Regions from separate parts of the Homo sapiens genome. Here region 1 is linked to region 2. The links come from fine-mapping of genetic effects on gene expression. A gene starts in region 2. The other region holds a variant in brackets. All regions are shown on one strand. Distances are between the middles of the regions.

Region 1 (2,904 bases), 22 kb before region 2:
GGTTCCCAAAGCCACACACATTGCCTGGGACATAGTAGTTGTTTTCAAAATGTTTGTTGAAAGAACAACTAATAAGTTAGGTCCTCTCAGTACTCCTCTTCAGGCACCAGTTTTTTGTTGTTGTTTTTGAGACAGTCTCTATTACCCGGGCTGGAATGCAGTGGTGCGATCTCAGCTCACTGCTACCTCTGCCTCCCAAATTCAAGCAATTCTCCTGTCTTGGCCTCCCGAGTAGCTGGGGTTACAGGCACATGCTTGTAGCACACCGGCTAATTTTTGTATTTTTATTAGAGACGGGACTTTGCCATGTTAGCCAGGCTGGTCTCAAACTCCTTACCTTGAGTAATCCGCCCACCTCAGCCTCCCAAAGTGCTGCAATTACAGGCGTCAGCCACCACACCAGGCCTATGTACCGGTATTATCTTTTGACAGAGGAAGGTAACTGAGGCTCAGTGAGGTGAGATGATTGCATGTTTAGCTTCAGGCTCAGTTTTCTGTCACTGAGTTGGATTCACTTTGCCTCTGAGCTGTGCCTCCCGGAGTGACAGAAGTAAGGTGGTGATTGCCAGGTGTGAGAATCAGAGTTGTCTGCCCCCCACCCCACACCTGGTACCAAATGATGTAGAAACAGAATCTGGTATAGCAGGAGGCCTGGTTCCTGATTCTGACACTGATTCACTGGGTGGCTGCAAATGAGCCCCCCCTCCTCACTTGGCCTCAGTCTCCCATCTAGAAAATGAAATGAGTAGAATAGTTTGGAGCGTTTTTTTAAACTGGGATTTAATTCCCATATGCATAAGATCAGAGGTTTTTTGAACTTTCTTTTGTCACAGTCTTTTTTTCCCAAATTAAATTTGATATGAAGACTCAATTCATAAACAAGATAAAAAGTGGGGCTGTGGCCGGGCACAGTGGCTCACGCCTGTAATCCCAGCACTTTGGGAGGCCAAGGTGGGCAGATCACAAGGTCAGGAGATCTAGACCATCCTGGCCAACACGGTGAAACCCTGTCTCTATTACAAAAAAAAAAAAAAAAAAAAATAGCCATGCATGGTGGTGGGCACCTGTAGTCCCAGCTACTCAGGAGGCTGAGGCAGGAGAATGGTGTCAACCCGGGAGGCAGAGCTTGCAGTGAGCCAAGATCGTGCTACTGCTCTCTAGCCTGGGTGATAGAGCGAGACTCAGTCTAAAAAAATATAATAATAAGTGGGGCTGTTAGGCAGGTACAGTGGCTTACACCTGTAATTCCAGCATTTTGGGAGGCCCAGGTGGGAAGATCACTGGAGCAAGAGTT[C/T]GAGCCCAGCCTGAGCAATATGAGGAGACCCCGTCCATACAAAAATAAAAATAAAAAATTAGCTGATCATTGTGGCATGTACCTGTAGTCCCAGCTACTCAGGAGGCTGAGGTTGGAGGATTGCTTGATCCCAGGAGGTCGAGGCTGCAATAAACCCAGATCATGCCACTGTACTTCAGCCTGAGTGACAGAGTAAGACCCCATCTCAAAAAAAAAAAAAAAAAAAAAAAAAAAAGCTGCTTTGGAGAGTGAAGGGAGTGGCATTAGAATTGAGCCTGCTGCCGGGTATGGTGGCTCACGCCTGTAATCCCAGCACTTTGGGAGGCCGAGGTGGGTGGATCACAAGGTCAGGAGATCGAGACCATCCTGGCTAACATGGTGAAACCCCGTCTCTACTAAAAAATACAAAAAATTAGCCGGGCGTGGTGGCACGCGCCTGTAGTTCCAGCTACTTGGGAGGCTGAGGCAGGAGAATGGCATGAACCCGGGAGGCAGAGCTTGCAGTGAGCTGAGATCACGCCACTGCAATCCAGCCTGGGCGACAGAGACTCCATCTCAAAAAAAAAAAAAAAAAAAAAAGAATTGAGCCTTCTTAGGGTGCCCCTTGCTTCCACCACGCGCCACCTCCTTACCTTCAGGGGTCCCTGGGGCACTAATACCCCAGGGCTTAGAGGAACCCAGTTTGAAAACCACTGGACAAGAGTCACTCTTCACAGTCCCTCCCAAGGTGTGGGAGCCCTGGGGAGGAATGAAGGGCCTCTGCTGTCCCAACTTGCAGATGAGCGTTGCTTTCTGAGCTGCAGCCCAGCTGCCTCCCGAGGGTCATGAGAAAGAAGGCAAGGGCAGGCTCAGGGCGCAGGAAGTGGAGCCGGCCAGCTGGGAGGCAGTAACAGGCGCTGGTACTGTGGCCTCCTGGATGGGCCGGTGACATCACAACCCCAGGAAGCAGCTGCCCAAGAGGCCTGCGCTGTCCCTCATTCCTCCTCTGGGAAAATCAGTCCCCAGCTGTTGCCGTCCTCTGTGTACTGGCTTACTCTTCCTGGATTGTCCCCTCCTGAACCAGCATCTTCAGCAGTAGCATCTTCAGAGAGAAGCCTCCCCTATGTGCTGGAACTGTGCTACCCTCTGTGGCACAGCTCGTAACAGCATGCTTTTAAAATTATCGTTTAATTTAATCATCACATCAACATCAAGTAGGGACCAGTACCATTCCCATTTTGCAAACTATGAGAGGCTCAGAAGTGCAAGACAGATCACACAGTTTCACCCAGCTGGTAAACACCAGAGCCAGGCTTTGAACCTTGTCCTGTCTGACTCCAATATTCATGAGTTTTCTTGAGTTACCACATGGTCAGATTCAAAGCAAAAACACGAGGTGGAGGTTGCTTCTTATGTGGCAATGTGAAGCTGTCAATTTCAAACACAGTTTCTTTGTTAATGGCGTTCCTGGCCTATTATCATCCAAGCGGAGTCTTAGGATGCGATAAAGGGCTTAGCACACTGTCTGGCACTCTACAAATGCAGCTTTACTCTGGCTCTCCCCTTTACAAAGGAAGAAACTGAGGCTCAGGGGAGCAAAGTCAAGACCATAGGACAGGCAGGTGCCAACC
Region 2 (2,904 bases):
CTTCTCTTCGGTTATTCAGGAGTTCCTACAGCCATTATTTTGCCTTTCCTGACCAAATAGCTGGCACTTGACGGCTGTAGCATGTAAAGACTGACTTGCCCACTCACAGGTTTTCTTCCTCTTTTCTTACTGAAGAGCCTGTCCTTGAAAAAAACATTCCAGGAAGAAATCTTTCTTGGGCCACAGAGCCCTGTGGTTTGATGGAAAAGAACGAGGCTTCAAGACTGGCTCTGCTATTACTTGTAGTGTGACATTGGGCATGTCTTAAATGCCTTCCTTGGGCCCCTCAGCATCTTTCACCTACATATCCAAATTTCACACAACCTTGGACTTCTACAATTGGAAAGGATTTTAAATAATCACTTAGTACCATCGTCTATTTTACTCACAAGGCAATTAAAGCCAGAGTACCTGGGCTTGTTCAAGATTACATGACAAATTATTGTCAGGGCTAGCATGATGAACCCAGGGCTCTCAATTCCCAGTCAGTGTCCTTTTCAACCGTTTTGCGACTCTCTTTGGCTCTGAGCCCCCCTTGTCCTGTTAATCAGTGCCACACATTATCGAACTCTTGTTTCCTGTGTTAATCTTGTCTCCCCAAATTGTGAGATTCTTGAAAGCAGGAGCCACTGTTTTATGCGGAGGGACTCCATAAATATTCACCAATGATTCATTAGGAAAGCAACTATTGGGGGAATCCCACTTGGTCATTTCCAAAATGGAAAGCAGCATCTTGGAAGTGCAGGTCCCCAAATGTCTAGGGAGGTGACAAGAAGGCAAGCAAAGAATCAAAGAATACTGAGCACAGTGTCCTGTTGCAATACAGGACTTAGTTTGCCGGCCCTCTGGTTCCTTTCCTGGTCTTTCAGATGGAGCTGGAGCTACTTCAGCAGGGCTAAGAATAATCAAGTCCAGGTGGCCTGCCCTTCCATAGCAGAAAGGGACAGACAATAGAGCAATGAAATTACCACTGTTTTCTACACAGAGGTGTGTGGAAAGTGAAGAGAGGGGAAGTTAAGAAATTTGCTGACCCAATTGGGTGGGGGGGGGCTCTTAAAAAGGTTTATGTAGAAATTGTCCCATCTGTGCCTCCATATTTAAAACCTTGTCCAAAATTCTAATTGAACTCACAAAGCACAACTGTGCATATATTTAGTTCGTTATGGAGTTTATGGGGCAGAGGGTCCAGGCTCCTTTTTTCCCCATGCAAAAAGCATGGGCTCAAGCTTTCTTCTTTTCCCCTGTTGCTCAAATAAATAGTGTTCTTTGCTCAAACCCCCTTTCCCTCCTCCTTCTGCAATCTCAGCGCCTAGCGCAAATCTGTTTTCTTCATTGTAACCTCAGCTTCACCGCAATTAATTTTTTTTCCCTCTGGTCACAAGATAATTCCTGACGCCAGTGAGTCTGGAGGTCAGACGAACAGCAAATTGGGGAACAAGGCGGCACTAATTCCTTACAAGTTTCCCTTGAAAAATCTTTCGCTTAAAAAAAACGGGGGGTGGGGGGAGCTTCTTTGCTGTTCAGGGATTTATGACCTCGGAGGAGCTGTGGCTCGAACCAGTGTTGGGCTAAAGGCGGACTGGCAGGGGGCAGGGAAGCTCAAAGATCTGGGGTGCTGCCAGGAAAAAGCAAATTCTGGAAGTTAATGGTTTTGAGTGATTTTTAAATCCTTGCTGGCGGAGAGGCCCGCCTCTCCCCGGTATCAGCGCTTCCTCATTCTTTGAATCCGCGGCTCCGCGGTCTTCGGCGTCAGACCAGCCGGAGGAAGCCTGTTTGCAATTTAAGCGGGCTGTGAACGCCCAGGGCCGGCGGGGGCAGGGCCGAGGCGGGCCATTTTGAATAAAGAGGCGTGCCTTCCAGGCAGGCTCTATAAGTGACCGCCGCGGCGAGCGTGCGCGCGTTGCAGGTCACTGTAGCGGGACTTCTTTTGGTTTTCTTTCTCTTTGGGGCACCTCTGGACTCACTCCCCAGCATGAAGGCGCTGAGCCCGGTGCGCGGCTGCTACGAGGCGGTGTGCTGCCTGTCGGAACGCAGTCTGGCCATCGCCCGGGGCCGAGGGAAGGGCCCGGCAGCTGAGGAGCCGCTGAGCTTGCTGGACGACATGAACCACTGCTACTCCCGCCTGCGGGAACTGGTACCCGGAGTCCCGAGAGGCACTCAGCTTAGCCAGGTGGAAATCCTACAGCGCGTCATCGACTACATTCTCGACCTGCAGGTAGTCCTGGCCGAGCCAGCCCCTGGACCCCCTGATGGCCCCCACCTTCCCATCCAGGTAAGCCTCGAAGTCGGGACAGGGCTGAACACCCAGGCAAGGATGCTGCGGGACCCTCGGAGCTCCCGATTGCCTCGCGTAACTCTTCCCTCTTTTCCTCTAATCAGACAGCCGAGCTCACTCCGGAACTTGTCATCTCCAACGACAAAAGGAGCTTTTGCCACTGACTCGGCCGTGTCCTGACACCTCCAGGTGAGTATCTCCTCTCTTGGAGAGGGAGGTTTAAACGGCAAGTCCTGGAGTTGGCAGACGTTTTGAAAAATTGCCACTCACTCGGTTTAGGGAAACTGAGGCCAGAGAGGGACAAGTGACTTGCCCATGGTTGCATCAAATGAATGGCAGAGTCAGTTTCCATGTGATGTGCATTTAAGCCTTAAATGCGCCTGGGCCCTGCCCTCCCGCAGTGGCCGAGGGTCTGGCAAAGTAGACATGGGTCCGACTAAATACAAGTCTTTCTGTTCCATGTTGTATAGGGAGCTGTCTTCGGCAGCCCCCTCCCAGCTAGTGTCAATTCCAAGTAGGAGGGGTAGCGCAAGCTCCGCCTGTGGTCTTTGGCGCCAACTGGGTGGGGGCAGCGTGGGGCGCGGAGTTATCAGCTGGAGGTACAGACCAAGTTTCCTCCCTGGCGCCGG

The links.
Region 1: its variant is fine-mapped to the expression of ID3 in neutrophils (CEDAR, PIP 0.91).

Annotation. Positions count from the first base shown.
Region 1 is chr1:23,580,701-23,583,604 of GRCh38, reverse strand. No RefSeq gene overlaps it. Among named protein-coding and RNA genes, the nearest start is that of ID3, 23 kb to the right of the region's middle. The variant C/T (reference allele first, on the strand shown) is at 1,295.
Region 2 is chr1:23,558,495-23,561,398 of GRCh38, reverse strand. It overlaps ID3 (inhibitor of DNA binding 3), which reads left to right and starts at 1,898. Exons shown (of 3, transcript NM_002167.5): 1 at 1,898-2,272; 2 at 2,380-2,464. The coding sequence starts at 1,973. The coding sequence ends at 2,439. All of the region lies in intron 2 of LOC124903876 (a long non-coding RNA gene), which reads right to left. RefSeq lists silencers at 1,585-1,831, 1,699-1,958 and an enhancer at 2,899-2,904.